2 linked regions of the Homo sapiens genome follow. The protein of the gene in region 1 interacts with the protein of each later gene in a pairwise test. Each region holds a gene or a part of one and is shown in the gene's direction. Other genes may lie near its edges.

Region 1 (7,266 bases):
CAGCACTTTGGGAGGTCGAGGCGGGTGGATCACAAGGTCAGGAGTTCGAGACCAGCCTGGCCAATATGGTGAAACCCCGTCTCTACTAAAAATACAAAAAAGCCAGGCGTAGTGGCACATGCCTGTAATCCCAGCTACTCGGGAGGCTGAGGCAGGAGAACTGCTTGAATCCGGGAGGCGGAGGTTGCAGTGAGCCGTGATCGCGCCACTGCACTCCAGCCTGGGTGACAGAGCGAGACTCCCATCTCAAAAAAAAAAAAAGAGTTTACTAACAAGGTCGGGTGCAGTGGCTCACGCCTTTAATCCCAGCACTTTGGGAGGCCGAGGTGGGTGGATCACATGAGGTCAGGAGTTTGAAACCAGCCTGACCAGCATGGTAAAACCCCGTCTCTACGAAAAATACAAAATTAGCCGGGCCTGGTAGTGCATGCCTGTAATTCTAGCTACTTGGGAGGCTGAGGCAGGAGAATTGCTTGAACCCAGGAGATGGAGGTTGCAGTGAGCTGAGATTGTGCCATTGCACTCCAGCCTGGGCAATGAGAGTGAAACTCCGTCTCAAAAAATAAAAGCCTCCGTATGTGGAATGCACTCTGAAATTGAATGTCTCACAGCCAATGAAATGAAATACATGTGGCTCCTGGGATTCAGGGTGGAAACCTTGGACCCTTTTTTGCTTCTCTTAGCTATACTTGTCCCCAGATGAAGGACTGAGCATGTGGCCGGGGGTCGTGAACCAGAGAGCCCATCAGCTGTAGCAGGAGAGCATCTCTTTACCATGATGCTTTCATTGTGCTTATTGGTGTTTTAAAGTAAATTGATGAACAGCATAACTTAGGGGAATGTGTTTTCTTATGAAATTTTAATGTGATGACAAATGCTGATTGCCCAGCAGCACATTTTCTGTTTCTGTCTTCGGGAAAATAGGTTAATTTTAAGCAGTGCGAAGGGGAGCTCAGGCCAGTGTTTTCACTCCCCGTGTGTCGTTGATGTCTCTCTCCCACAGAACTGAAGCAGATTACCTGGCTCAGTGTCACAGGGCTGCTGATGGTGGTCTTCGGAGAATGTCTGAGGAAGGCGGCCATGTTTACAGCTGGCTCCAATTTCAACCACGTGGTACAGAATGAAAAATCAGATACACATACTCTGGTGACCAGTGGAGTGTACGCTTGGTTTCGGCATCCTTCTTACGTCGGGTGGTTTTACTGGAGTATTGGAACTCAGGTATAATATTAAATATGACACTGCTTTTCTTTTTTTTTTTTTTAAGTAACATTTTAAACGTGATATTCACGTAGCATAAAAGTCACCATTTCAAAATATACAATTAGTGGTTTTCAGTGTATTCATGAGGTTGTTGGTCTCCTTTAAATAATAGGTACATGTTCTTCTTGGCGCGTTTCAAGTGATAATTTAATAAAAGTCAAGAGAACTAATGTAGTCCTTAATGCTTTTCACTATGTGCCCAGAACCTGGGTGCGTAAGTCCTTGGTGATTCTTGGTGCTGTTAGCTACCTGCTGTATCCCTTCATCCTGTTTCTGCCTCTGTTTGTTTGTTTTCTTTTTTCTTTTTTTTTTTTTGGTAGAGACAGGGTCTTACTGTGTTGCCTGGGCAGGTCTCAAACTCTTGGCCTTAAGTGATCCTCCCACCTCAGCCTCGCAAAGTGCTAGCATTATAGGCATGAGCCATTGTGCCTCTCCCTTTCTCTGCCCCTTCAACCTATTAATAGATCTGAAGCACCCCAGAGGGGGTGAGGACAGAGATGGGGCTTAGGGAAGGGAGTGCCCTCTGTCACTCATGTGGCAGCTTGGCTAGTTTTCATCAGAAATAGGTATTAATGGGGCCGAGGCCATGTGTTAGTGAGCTGTGTGAGCCATGGAGGTTTGTTCTGTCTCAGGCTGAAGAAAAGGCCTTGTTTCGTTTCTTTTCTTTTCTTTCTTTCTTTTTTTTTTTTGAGACCTAGTCTTGCTCTGTTGACCAGGCCAGAGTGCAGTGGTGCGATCTTGGTTCACTGCAACCTCTGCCTCCCAAGTAGCTGGAACTGTAGGCACGAACCACCATGCCTGACTACTTTTCGTATTTTTTTTGTAGAGACAGGGTTTCTCGAGTTGCCCAGAGCCATCTTGAACTACTGAGCTCAAGCAGTCTGCCTTCCTGGGCCTCTCAAAGTGCTGGGATTACAGGCTTGAGCTACAGTGCCTGGCCTTTTTTTTTTTTTTTTCCTTTTTGAGATGGAGTCTCACTCTGTTGCCCTGTTGCCCAGGCTGGAGTGCAGTGGCATGATCTCAGGTCACTGCAACCTCTGCCTCCCAGGTTCAAGCGATTCTCTTGCTTCAGCCTCCTGAGTAGCTGGGACTACAGGCGCCCGCCACCACACCCGGCTAATTGTTTGTATTTTTAGTAGAGATGAGGTTTGACTGTGTTAGCCAGGATGGTCTTGATCTCCTGACCTCATGATCTGCCCGCCTCGGCCTCCCAAAGTGCTGGGATTATAGGCATGAGCCACCGTGCCCAGCTTTTTTTTTTTTTTTTTTTTTTAAAGACAGGATCTTGCTGTGTTGCCCAGCCTGGAGTGCAGTGTTCTGATCATGGCTCACTGCAGCCTTGACCTCCTGAGCTCAAGTGATCCTCCTACCTCAGCCTCCCAAGTAGCTGGAATACATTACAGGTGTTGCCACCACGTCCGGCTAATTTTTAAATTTTTTGTAGAGGTGGTTCTCCTGGACGGTTGCCTGTAATCCCAGCACTTTGAGAGGCTGAAGTGGGTGGGTCACTTGACATCAGGAGTTTGAGACAAGCCTAGCCAACATGGCAAAACCCCATCTCTATTAAAAATACAAAAATTAGTTGGGCCTGGTGGCACATGCCTATAGTCTCAGCTACTCGGGAGGCTGAGACCTGAGAACCGCTTGAACCTGGGAGGTGGAGGTTGCAGTGAGCTGAGATTGTGCCACTGCACTCCAGCCTGGGTGATGGAGTGAGACTCTGTCTCAAAAAAAAAAGAGATGGTTCCTCCTTTGTTGCCCATGCTGGTCTTGAACTCCTGGGCTCAAGCCATCCTCCTACCTTGGCCTTCTAAAGTGCTGGGATTAGGCCAGGCATGGTGGTTCTTACTTATAATTCCAGCTAGTCGAGAGACTGAGGCACAATATTTGCTTGAACCTGGGAGGCAGAGGTTGCAGTGAGCTGAGATCACGCCACTGCACTCCAGCCAGGGTGACACAGCAAGAATCTGTCTCAAAAAGAAAAAAAGAAAAAGAAGTGTAAGGATTATAGGTGTGAGCCACTGCACCTGCTCTATGTGTGTGTGTGTGTGTGTGTGTGTGTGTGTGTGTGTGTGTATTTTTTTTATTTATGTATGGTTTTTTGTTTTGTTTTGAGGCAGGGTCTCTCACCCAGGCTATAGTGCATTGGCATGATCATGGTTTACTGCAGCCTCTACCTCTTGGGCTCAAGTGATCCTCCCACCTTAGTCTCCTAAGTATCTGCCCAGGCTGGAGTGCGGTGTCACAATCTCGGCTCATTGCAACCTCCGCCTCCCGGGTTTGAGTGATTCTCCTGCCTCAGCCTTCTAAGTAGCTGAAACTACAGATGTGTGTCATCACACCTGGCTAATTTTTGTATTTTTTAATTAATTTATTTTTTTGAGATGGAGTTTCACTCTTGTTGCCCAGGCTGGAGTGCAATCATGTGATCTCAGCTCACTGCAACCTCTGCCTCCCGGGTTCAAGCGATTCTCCTGCCTCAGCCTCCTGAGTAGCTGGGATTACAGGCATGCGCCACCATACCCGGCTAATTTTGTATTTTTAGTAGAGACGGGGTTTCTCCATGTTGGTCAGGCTGTTCTCGAACTCCCAACCTCAGGTGATCTGCCTGCCTTGGCCTCCCAAAGCGTTGGGATTACAGACATGAGCCACCATGCCCAGCCCCTGGCTAATTTTTGTATTTTTGTAGAGACGGGGTTTTTCCATGTTGCCTAGGCTGGCCTCGAACTCCTGCGGTTGAGTGATCTACCCGCCTCGGCCTCTCAAAGTGCTGGGATTACAGGCGTGAGCCACCACATGTATTTCTTTTTCTTTCTTTTTTTTTTTTGAGACAGAGTCTCACTTTGTCGCCCAGGCTGGAGTGCAGTGGTGCGATCTTGGCTCACTGCAACCTCCACCTCCCGGGTTCAAGTGAGTCTCCTGCCTCAGCCCCCGCGAGTAGCTGGGATTACAGTTGTGCACTACCTCGCCCAGCTAATTTTTTGTATTTTTAGTAGGTTTAGTAGGGGTTTCACTGTGTTGGCCAGGCGGTTCTCAAACTCCTGACCTCAGATGATCCACCCGCTTCAGCCTCCCAAAGTGCTGGGATTACAGGCGTGAGCCACTGCATCCAACCCGCATATTTCTTTTTTAAAATTACTATTTGGCTAGGCACAGTGGCTTTGGGAGACCAGAGCAGGAGGATTGCTTGAGGCCAGGAATTAGAAACCAGCTTGGCTGGCCGGGCATGGTGGCTCATGCCTGTAATCCCAGCACTTTGGGAGGCTGAGGCAGGCAGATCATGAGGTCAGGAGATCAAGACCATCCTGGCTAACACAGTGAAGCCTCATCTCTACTAAAAATACAAACAATTAGCCTGGTGTGGTGGCACGCATCTGTAGTCCCAGCTACTTGGGAGGCTGAGGCAGGAGAATGGCGTGAACCCGGGAGGCGGAGCTTGCAGTGAGCCGAGATCGCGCCACCGTACTCCAGCCTGGGCGACAGAGCGAGACTCCATCTCAAAAAAAAAAAAGAAAAAGAAACCAGCTTGGCCAACATAGTGAGAACCCTTCTCTCCAGAGGAAAAAACTAAAAATATATCTGGAAGTTGTAGTGTGCACCTGTAGTCCCAGCTACTCAGGAGGCTGAGGCAGGAGGATCGCTTTGATTGCTGCTGTACTCCAGTCTGGGCAACAGAGTGAGACCCTGTCTTAAAAACAGAAAACAAAATTATTTATTTGTGTATTAAAGATGAGATCTCGCTGTGTTGCCCAAGCTAGTCTCAAACTCCTGGGTTCCAGCAGACCTTCTGCTTTTGTCTCCTGAGTAGCTGGGACTATAAGTGTGCACCACCATGCCCAGCTAACTTTTTGTTTTTTGTAGAGATGGGGTCTTAGTGTTGCCCAGGCAGATTTTGAACTCCTGGGCTCAAGCAGTCCTCTCACTGCAGCCTCTCAAAATGCTGGGATTACAGGCATGATCCACCATGCCCAACCCAAAGCCTTATTTCTTTTTTTTTTCTTTTTGAGACAGAGTCTCGCTCTGTCGCCCAGGCTGGAGTGCAGTGGCGCAATCTCGGCTCACTGCAAGCTCCGCCTCCTGGGTTCACGCCATTCTCCTGCCTCAGCCTCCTGAGTAGCTGGGACTACAGGCGCCCGCCACCATGCCTGGCTAAATTTTTTGTATTTTTAGTAGAGACGGGGTTTCACTGTGTTAGCCAGGATGATCTCAATCTCCTGACCTCATGATCCACTTGCCTCAGTCTCCCAAAGTGCTGGGATTACAGGCGTGAGCCATCGCGCCTGGCCGCCTTATTTCTTGAAACTGTTTCTTGATTCTTTACTCTTGGTCCTAGAAAAACTTGGCCAAAGAATGTGAATAGATCTTGGAAAATTCACGAAGTGTTTGGGAAAAGTCTCCAAGTCTTTGGGCAAATCCAGAGATCTCTCAGGCATCCCATCAGCAATGCATGGTCCTTGGTGACTCTGGTGACCCCTAACGGTATAGGTGGGGCAAATGATCACATAGCATTTACAATTTTTGTTTCTGAAACATGTAAAACCGCCACATTAACAATCACCTTCCCTGGGAACAAATTAGTTATGACTGAATAATGTAATTTGCCATAAATGCTTGCTTCCTGTATATGTGTGTGCACTAGAACCAAAGGGTTTTCCATACCTTTTTGCCCATAGATTTTTTTTACATTGTGCTCCAGCACTTGTGTGTGTATGAAAGGAACATGTCTTTCCTGATATAATACTTACACTTACTGTTTACAAAATCCTGTTTTCTATCTTATTATTTCAATACTGTTCATAATGTACTAAATGATTTCATGGCTTAGTAACAGGCTGCAGCCTGCTATAGAGAACTCCCACTGTAGGGTATCCCCAGCAAGCTATGCCAGATGTGAGGGTACAGGCCCCGGAGTCACTGACTGGGCCAGTCCTGATTCTGACATTCACTGCTTGGCCTCCTTCTCCTCTCATGTTAAAGTGGGGGCAGCTAGACATAGTGGCACATGCCTGTAGTTCCCCCTACTCTGGAAGCTGAGGCAGGAGGATGGCTTGAGGCCAAGAGTTCAAGTCCAGCCTGGGCAATATAGTGAGACCCTGTCTTTAAAAAATAATAAAATTTTAAAAAAAACAAAGTGGGGATAGTAGCGTGCCCTCAAAGGTTTGCCATGAGAGTTGAACAGGGTAATGATTGTAAAGGGCTTAGCATGGCGCTGGGAACATAGTAAGTGCTCAATAAGAGAAGGTGTGAGAGGTCAGGACATGAGCCTGGCTCTCCGGGTGGCTGTATTGGAGCCTAAAATATATATTCAGAAAACATACAGAAAATGTATGTTGGGGAAGATGCACATCCACAGGGGACCAGTGGGCAGGTGTAGGTGAGTGGTTCCCTGAGGAGCTGGGGAATGCTTTTGGCCTTGAAGGACTGTTTGGCTGGAGATCAGTGGGAAGGATGTTCTTTGTTTTTTTTGAGAGGGAGTTTCGCTCTGTCGCCCAGGCTGGTATGCAGTGGCGATCTCAGCTCACTGCAACCTCTGCCTCCTGGGTTCAAGCAATTCTCCTGCCTCAGCCTCCCAAGTAGCTGGGATTACAGGCTCCCACCACTACGCCCAGCTAATTTTTCTATTTTTGGTAGAGACGGGGATTCGCCATGTTGGCCAAGCTTGTCTCAAGCTCCTGACCTCAGGTGATCTGCCCTCCTTGGCCTCCCAAAGTACTGCAATTAACAGACATGAGCCACCGTACCTGGCCAGGATGTTCTTAAAGGTGGAAGAAAGGGCCAGGAGTTCGAGACCAGCTTGGGCAACATTGTGAAACCCCATCTCTACAAAAAATACAAAAATTAGCTGGGTGTGGTGGCATGTGCCCTTAGTCCCAGCTACTTGGGAGGCTGAGGTGGGAGAATCACTTGAGCCCAAGCAGTTAAGGCTGCAGTGAGCCATGATCACGCCACTGCACTCCACGTGACAGAGTGACAATCTGTCTCGGGGGAAAAAAAAGAGGCAAA
Region 2 (7,911 bases), about 27 Mb from region 1:
AGAGAGAGAAGTAGACTGAAAAAATAAAGTGGGAAGAAGAGGGAGTTAATGCTTAATGGCTATGGAATTCCAAGTTGGTAAAACGAAAAAGTTCTGGAGATGGATGGTGGTGATGGTTGCACAACAATATGAATTTATTTAATGTTACCAAACTGTACACTTAAAATTGGTTAAAATGGTAGATTTTATGTAATGCATATTTTACCACAATAAAAAAAAAAGAAGAAGCTAGCATGCAGAGAAGCAAAGATGAATGATGGAGTGCAGGATCTGGGGGCTTTCCTGGGTGCAGTTGCTGTGGTACAAAGGGTTCAAAAGGTTATAGAAGCCAAAAATCACTCCTTTGGCCTAGCCTCATTCAAGTTAGGCTTCTGGTCCTTGCATCCAATGGAGCCATAATACAGAACCTTTCCATTTTCTTTTTTGTTTCTTTTCTTTTCTTTTTTTTTTTTTTTTTTTTTTGAGAAGCAGTCTCACACTGTGGCCCAGGCTTACAGTACAGTGACATGATCTTGGCTCACTGCAACTTCTGCCTCCCAGGTTCAAGTGATTCTCGTGCCTTGGCTTCCCGAGTAGCTGGGACTACAGGTGAGTGCCACCATGCCTGGCTAATTTTTGTATTTTTAGTAGAGACAGGGTTTCTGCATGTTGGCCAGGCTGGTCTCGAACCTCCCGACCTCAAGCAATCTGCCCACCTCAGCCTCCCAAAGTGCTGGGATTACAGCGTGAGCCACCATGCCTGGCCAGAACCTTTCCATTTTCATTTCTCACTCATGTCCTTTCAAACATTCTCTTCTCCTGTCAACCCTGCTGCTCATACTTCCTCAGACTTATCCTGTGTTTATACACACTATGCCTTTCCTCCCTGCTCCCCAAGCTTGGAATGTCCTTCCCCCTTCTTATGACTTTGTCAACTCATATTCATCATTTGAGATCCAGCTGAAAGGGCTCCTCCTCAGGAAAGCCATCCCTGACCACCCTAAGCAGAGCCTGCCATGCCTTCTGTTGGTCTGTCATAGCTTTTTTGTATATGTCCTCATCACTTGGTATCTCAGTGATCTGCCATCTTGTCTGTAACCCCCAGTAGATTATGTTTTTCATCTCCATGACCCTGGTAGCTAGCAAAGAGGCTAGCACAAGTAAGTATAATAAATCTTTACTGAATGAGTGTACAGATGAGTGAGAATCTTTTTCTCCCTCATGCCATCTCTGAGTCACTACTCAGTTTCTATCAAGAAGAGACACATAAGGAAACGTGGGAGGAATTGCTTTAGTCCCTTTATTCAAGGGTGATAGTCTCAGGAGAGAAGAAAACACAATCAAGTTGGGGCCACTGCAAAGTCTAGTGGCATTTAAGAGAAGTTATTTTCCCCAAAGCACTGGCAGCTTTGAACTGAGGCTGAATTTGTTTGGAAGCCAGAGCCAAGACAAGCAGACATTTGGTAGTGTTGAGCCTTCCAGCAAGCTGGGATTCTGACAGCCGTTTCTGTCAGCTGCACAAGGAGAAGCATCTAAAAGGCATCTGGGTCTACCTGGAATTGGGGGTCCCCATATCTTTTAGCACAATCTGACCCAAGGAACAAGGCAGCCGTCTCTCCTACCCTCCATTCCCACCATAAGCATATACCTCCTCTAAGGGGGCTCTGCAGTTGATTAGGACGTTGGGCACTGAGAACAGAGTCAAAGATGACTATAGGAAACTGTGGCAGAGATGATACTACTGCTTACTAAATGGCTTATGGTTTCTTCCTACATTTCCCAGCCTCCCTTGCAGTTTTTTTGTTTGTTTGTTTGTTTTTGACACAGAGTCTTGCTCTCTCGCCCAGGCTGGAGTGCAGTGGTGTAATCTCCGCTCACTGCAACCTCTACCTCCTGGGTTCAAGCGATTCTCCTGCCTCAGCCTCCTGAATAGCAGGGATTACAGGCGCCCCACCACACCCCGCTAACTTTTGTATTTTTAGAGATGGGGTTTCACCATGTTGGCCAGGCTGGTCTCGAACTCCTGACCTCAGGTGATCCACCTGCCTCGGCCTCCCAAAGTGCTAGGATTACAGGCATGAGCCACCGTGCCTGGCCTCCAGCTCTCTTTTTGAGGCAATACTGAAAGCTTTGCATTGAGATAGTGGAGCCCAAGAGAGAAGTAGTCTGGATCTCTGAGTTACCCAGGAGAGTTGAGGAGAGCTACTCTGGAGAGTGCCTTAACCCACAGCCAGCGTTGCATGAGTGGAAAAGATATACCATTGTTGTGTGTTATGCCATTGAGAAATTTGGCTTGTTTGTTACCATAGCCAAGTCTAGCCTATTCTGCCAGATAAATATAGACATTAATTGTTGTTTTAGCCATCCAGCATCAAACCTCCTTCCTATTTGAGGATTAAACTCTCCCCCTCCTTTAGGACTCTTTGGTGTTGCCAAATCCAGTGGTCACATCTCTGTTCTTATCTTTCTTGATTTCTCAGCAGCATTTGTCACAATTGACCACTCCCTTCTGGGAACATACTATGTTGGTGTCTGTGACATCATGCCTGCTTAGTTTTTCTTTTATGTCACTGGCCCCCGCTTTTCAGTTTTCTTTGTTGGCTCCCCTTCTTGTTTTATGTCAAAAGTTTGAAGTTCTGGAGACCTGGTTTAAAATATCACAGCTGGTTTCCACCTTTTGAGACGATGTCTTTTTGTGTCACCCAGGCTGGAGTGCAGTGGCATAATCACGGCTCACTGCAGTCTCAACCTCCCAGGCTCAAGCATTCCTCCCACCTCAGTCTCCCAAGTAGCGGGGACTACAGGCACACTCCATCACACCCAGATAATTTTTGTATTTTTTGTAGAGATGGGGTTTTGCCATGTTGCTCAAGCTGGTCTCAAACTCCTGGGCTTAAGAGATTCACCAGCCTAGGTCTCCCAAAGTGTTGTAATTACAGGTGCGAGCCACAGCTCCTGGCCCATCTTACCATTCCTTATTAATAACAGAGCACTCATTGTTAGCTGGGCACATTGTACCCAGTTAAGAGAATGTTTCCCAGGCTCCCTTGCAGCTGAGTATGGCCATGTGAGTGAGTATGTTTTGGCAAAAATGTGCGGGACTTTCGAGGCAGTCCTTTTTTCTTTCTTTCTTTTTCTTTTTCTTTTTTTTTTTTTTTTGAGACAGAGTCTCGCTCTGTCGCCCAGGATGGAGTGCAGCGGCGCGATCTCGGCTCACTGCAACCTCCGCCTCCTGGGTTCACGCCATTCTCCTGCCTCAGCCTCTCGAGTTGCTGGGATTACAGGCGCCCGCCACCACGCCCGGCTAATTTTTTATATTTTTAGTAGAGACGGGATTTCACTGTGTTAGCCAGGATGGTCTCCATCTCCTGACCTCGTGATCCGCCAGCCTGGGCCTCCCAAAGTGCTGGGATTACAGGCGTGAGCCTCCGCGCCCAGCCCCAAGGCAGTCTTCTTAAAAGGAAGAGGATGCATCTTTCTTCCCTTTTTCCTTCCCACTGTTTGGAATATGGACCATAGTGAGGTGACCTTAACACTGGAAGCCAAATACTGAGGATGGCTGAACAGCCCTGAACTGCCTACTTTTGGACTTATATTTCATGGAAAGAGAGAAATTTCTGGCTAGGTGCAGCGGCTCATGCCTGTAATCCCAGCACTTTGAGAGGCCAAGGCAGGAGGATCGCTTGAGCCCAGGAGCTCGAGACCAGCCTGAGCAACACAGGGAGATTTCATCTCCATGAAAAAAATAAAAATAATAGGCAGGCCTGGTGGCGCACCTGTGCTCCCAGCTACTCCAGAGGTTGGGGTGGGAGGATCGCTTAAGCTTGGGAGGTTGAGGCTTCAGTGAGCTGTGATCACGCCACTGCACTCCAACCTGGGTGACAGAGCAAAACCGTCTCAGGAAAAAAAATAAATAAATTTCAATCGTAAGCTATTTTTTTCTTTTGTTATTTGCAATTGAATGTAATCCTGATACATTCCTGTTGTTGAAGCTGTTTGCCTGCCTCCCACTAGGAAGCCTAAGGGTCCAGATCCTCCCCCAGTCAGAGGAATGGGGAACTAGAAAAAGAAAGGCAAAGGCACTGCCAGGCAAGAAAACGCTGGGTCTCCTTCCACAAGTTTGGTAAGTAAGCAAGATACCAGGAGGATAGAATGGTAAGTGAGCCTAGAAATAGACTATTATATACATAGGGTTTATTAAATACATAGAGAACACTGAATGCTAGACTAAGAAATTTGGACTTTATTCTGGAAGTCCCTTGCAATAGGGGACCTTGTCTGTTTTATTTTCTAATGCCTCGCACTTTGTAGAAGCTCAGTGAATGAATATATTCTTTATTAATTTATGCCGTCTGCTTAATAAACAGAAATGTTGGAAGGTGAACCAGTTGGGAGTCACCATCTGATCAACCCCTGCCTGCTTTTTATAAATAATGTAACTGAACCATCATTTACTGGAAGTGGCAATCAACCTGTGAGGAACGGCAAACCAAAAAGTCCACCTTGGGTGTCATGGTGATGGAATTGGAGGCGGAGACCAGGGAGAGCAGCGGGCTAGGATCTCTGAGAGTCTCCGCAACATGGCGGCCCTGGAACCACCTGACCGGCAGGAGGCGGAGCTCCGCCCCAGCTCGCTCGGCCCCACCCCGCTCGGCCCTGCCCAGCGCACTCCTAGACCGGGGCGCAAGGGTTGTGAGGTGTTTGAGCGAAGCGCCTGCGCAGGGCAGCGGCGCGCGGGGCGGAGGCTTTATAATCACTTCGTCGTTGCCGCTCGGCTTCTATCGCCGGGAGGGCGGTTGAGGCGGTGGTGGCGGCGTCGGCGGCGGCCGGGCGCTGGCTGAGGGGCGCTGAGGCGGGAGCTGTGGCGGCGCTGGGCGCCCCTGGCTCCTCGGCCTCTGCCGGCCATGGGCTCCGAGAAGGACTCCGAGTCGCCGCGCTCCACATCGCTACATGCGGCCGCACCCGACCCTAAGTGCCGCAGCGGCGGCCGGCGCCGGCGCCTCACCTTGCACAGCGTCTTCTCTGCCTCGGCCCGCGGCCGCCGCGCCCGGGCCAAGCCGCAGGCCGAGCCGCCGCCCCCGGCTGCGCAGCCGCCGCCCGCCCCGGCCCCTGCCGCGGCCCAGGGCCCGCCGCCCGAGGCGCTGCCCGCCGAGCCGGCCGCCGAGGCCGAGGCGGAGGCCGCGGCGGCGGCGGCGGAGCCTGGGTTCGACGATGAGGAGGCGGCGGAGGGCGGTGGCCCGGGCGCGGAGGAGGTGGAGTGTCCGCTGTGCCTGGTGCGGCTGCCGCCTGAGCGGGCCCCGCGCCTCCTCAGCTGTCCGCACCGCTCGTGCCGGGACTGCCTCCGCCACTACCTGCGCCTGGAGATAAGCGAGAGCAGGGTGCCCATCAGCTGCCCCGAGTGCAGCGAGCGACTCAACCCGCACGACATCCGCTTGCTGCTCGCCGACCCGCCGCTTATGCACAAGTACGAGGAGTTCATGCTGCGCCGCTACCTAGCCTCGGACCCCGACTGCCGCTGGTGCCCGGCCCCGGACTGCGGGTGAGCGCGGGGGCGTGGCGCGGGTGGCGGCGGGCTGCAGCCGAGGGGCGTGGCTGGGGGCAGCAGGGACCCCGCGTGGGTGTCCCAAGCAGGGAAACCCGCAAGGCGGCAGCTTCGGCGGGGTGGTAACCATCAGGCAAGCCCAGACTAGTGGTGTGAACGCACCCGACACCCCGCCCCCTGCCCCAGGGCTCGAGGTGGCTGCTAAGCATTCGGTGAGGGGAAGGGAGCTGTCCAAGTTAGGAGACAGGGAGAGGCGGTTTTTTTGTTGGGGGAATGCCCTCTGTCCGGAGGTGAGGACAGTATCTTTTTTTTTTTTTCTTTTTTTTTTTGGAGACGGAGTCTCGCCCTGCCGCCCAGGCTGGAGTGCAATGGCGCGATCTCGGCTCACTGCAACCTCCGCCTCTCAGGTTCAAGCGATTCTCCTGCCTCAGCCTCCCGAGTAGCTGGGATTACAGGCGCCCGCCACCACACCCGGCTAATTTCTTTGTATTTTTAGTAGAGATGGGGTTTCACCATGTTGGCTAGGCTGGTCTCGAACTCCTGACCTCAGGTGATCCTCCTGCCTCGGCCTCCCAAAGTGCTGGGATTACAGGCGTGAGCCACCGCTCCCGGCCAAGGTGGGGAGTATCTCTTAATGAGAGTGGGGAGGGGATATTTGGCCAAGGAGGGAATGAGAATATTCTGAGGGGGCAGCGCGTCGGAGGGGTGTGTCCACTTGGCTAGGGACAGACTTAGCATTGCAGAAGAAGGCGTGTTCTCCCTGACAACCACCGCTGAAAGTTGGGATGGAGGTGACTGGGGAATAGGCTCTCGGGTACCCTGAGCACTATGTGTTCTGTGCCACGCTATCGGGAGGCACTCTGTCGTTCTTACCTTGCTGCCTTGGGTAGGGTGAGGGGTAGACAGATATGTTCTTTGTCCAGAGTCTCAATGGGGGCACTGAGAAGAATGCCCAGAGGTTGGTGTGATAGGAGAAATTGTGTTTCTGAACCCCTTTGATCTTGAGTTCTTGATGACAGTCTTTTTAATGCACCATGTAGGCTGAATTTTAAAGGGCAGTAAATTAAAATATGCAATATCTGCAGAGACATAATACACCAGATTTTGCTATCTGAAGCATTCAGTGGAGACCTTCCTCGCCCTCCCCGCCTTTAGAAGTCTAATTGTTACTGTCAGTATATCCCATGAAGGGGTTGCACGCAGGAAGAGGGGCTCATTTAAGTAGTTGGGAGTCAGACAGCCATTACCTGTTCTGTGACCTTGGGCAGATAATTTTATTCTTGTGTGTCATGTTTTGGCGACAAAAAGATGCTGGGGAGTCCTTGCAGTGTGTAAACGTAATGCTAGTAAAAAGTTGTGTGATCTTTAGCTTCAAAGGAGTTAAGGACTTTTAATTGTAGCCTATATATCAAGGTGGTTTTGAAATCTCCATGATGCTGCTGGTTGTCTCCTTTCAAAAGGAGCTGTCTTAGAGTGTCTAGGAGAGTAAGAAGAGTTAACTTCTGTTTTTAATTCTGCCAAACTTGTTTAGAAATGGGTGTGCTATTTAACCTCACTGAGATGGGGTTTCTAAATTACTTTGAAGTGTTGTGGTCAAAGGAATGGTGTTTATGGTGGCTCACTTTCACTTTCAGTTAATAAGTATCAGGAAGGACCTTTTAGGTTCATGGAACTGTCTATGTCTAGTGATCTTACTGGCCCTCTGAGGTTAATTTATATTAAAGTTTTACAGATACTGTTGATCTGTTTTCTTAACCAAACGAATATTAAGAGAACACAGGCCAGGCTCGGTGGCTCACGCCTATAGTCCTAGCATTCTGGGAGACCAAGGTGGGTGGATCACCTGAGGTCGGGAGCTCAAGACCAGCCTGGCCAACATAGTGGTATCCTGTCTCTGCTAAAAATAGAAAAATTAGCCGGGCATGGTGGTGCACACCTGTAGTCCCAGCTACCCAGGAGGCTGAGGCAGAATCGCTTGAACCTGTGAGGCAGAGGTGCAGTGAGCCGAGATCAGGCCACTATACTCCAGCCTGGGTGACAGAGCGAGATTCTGTCTCAAGAAAAAAAAAAAACAAAACACTGCATAGTTAATTTTGGAATAGTACATTAACTCCTTTCTGAGATGTTTCCTTGAGTTCTAAGAAATGTGGCAGATCATCTTTCTGGAAAAGGTCCCTGTTTGTTTTTTTATTTTTCTAAAGTCAGTTTCTGTCTTTGCTCACATCAATAAAAATGCACAGAAAATAATTTTCAAGCTTGGTGACAACTCTCAACTATTTGGAAGTTATTAAAAAATTAGGCCATTTCTTATTTTAGCCAAGTATTATGTTAGTATCCTCCAGATTTTATTTTTTTAATTAGTTAGAAGAATGATAATCATATATATAGTT

Evidence for each region.
Region 2: the proteins of ICMT (region 1) and RNF19B interact in binary tests that used the Homo sapiens proteins (3 or more experiments, as listed by UniProt).

What each region holds. Positions count from the first base shown.
Region 1 is NC_000001.11:6,225,857-6,233,122, reverse strand, and holds part of ICMT (protein-S-isoprenylcysteine O-methyltransferase), read left to right. Parts: intron 1-1,003; coding exon 1,004-1,221; intron 1,222-7,266. UniProt on the Homo sapiens protein: Catalyzes the post-translational methylation of isoprenylated C-terminal cysteine residues.
Region 2 is NC_000001.11:32,961,658-32,969,568, reverse strand, and holds the start of RNF19B (E3 ubiquitin-protein ligase RNF19B), read left to right. Parts: upstream 1-4,759; 5' UTR 4,760-4,883; coding exon 4,884-5,518; intron 5,519-7,911.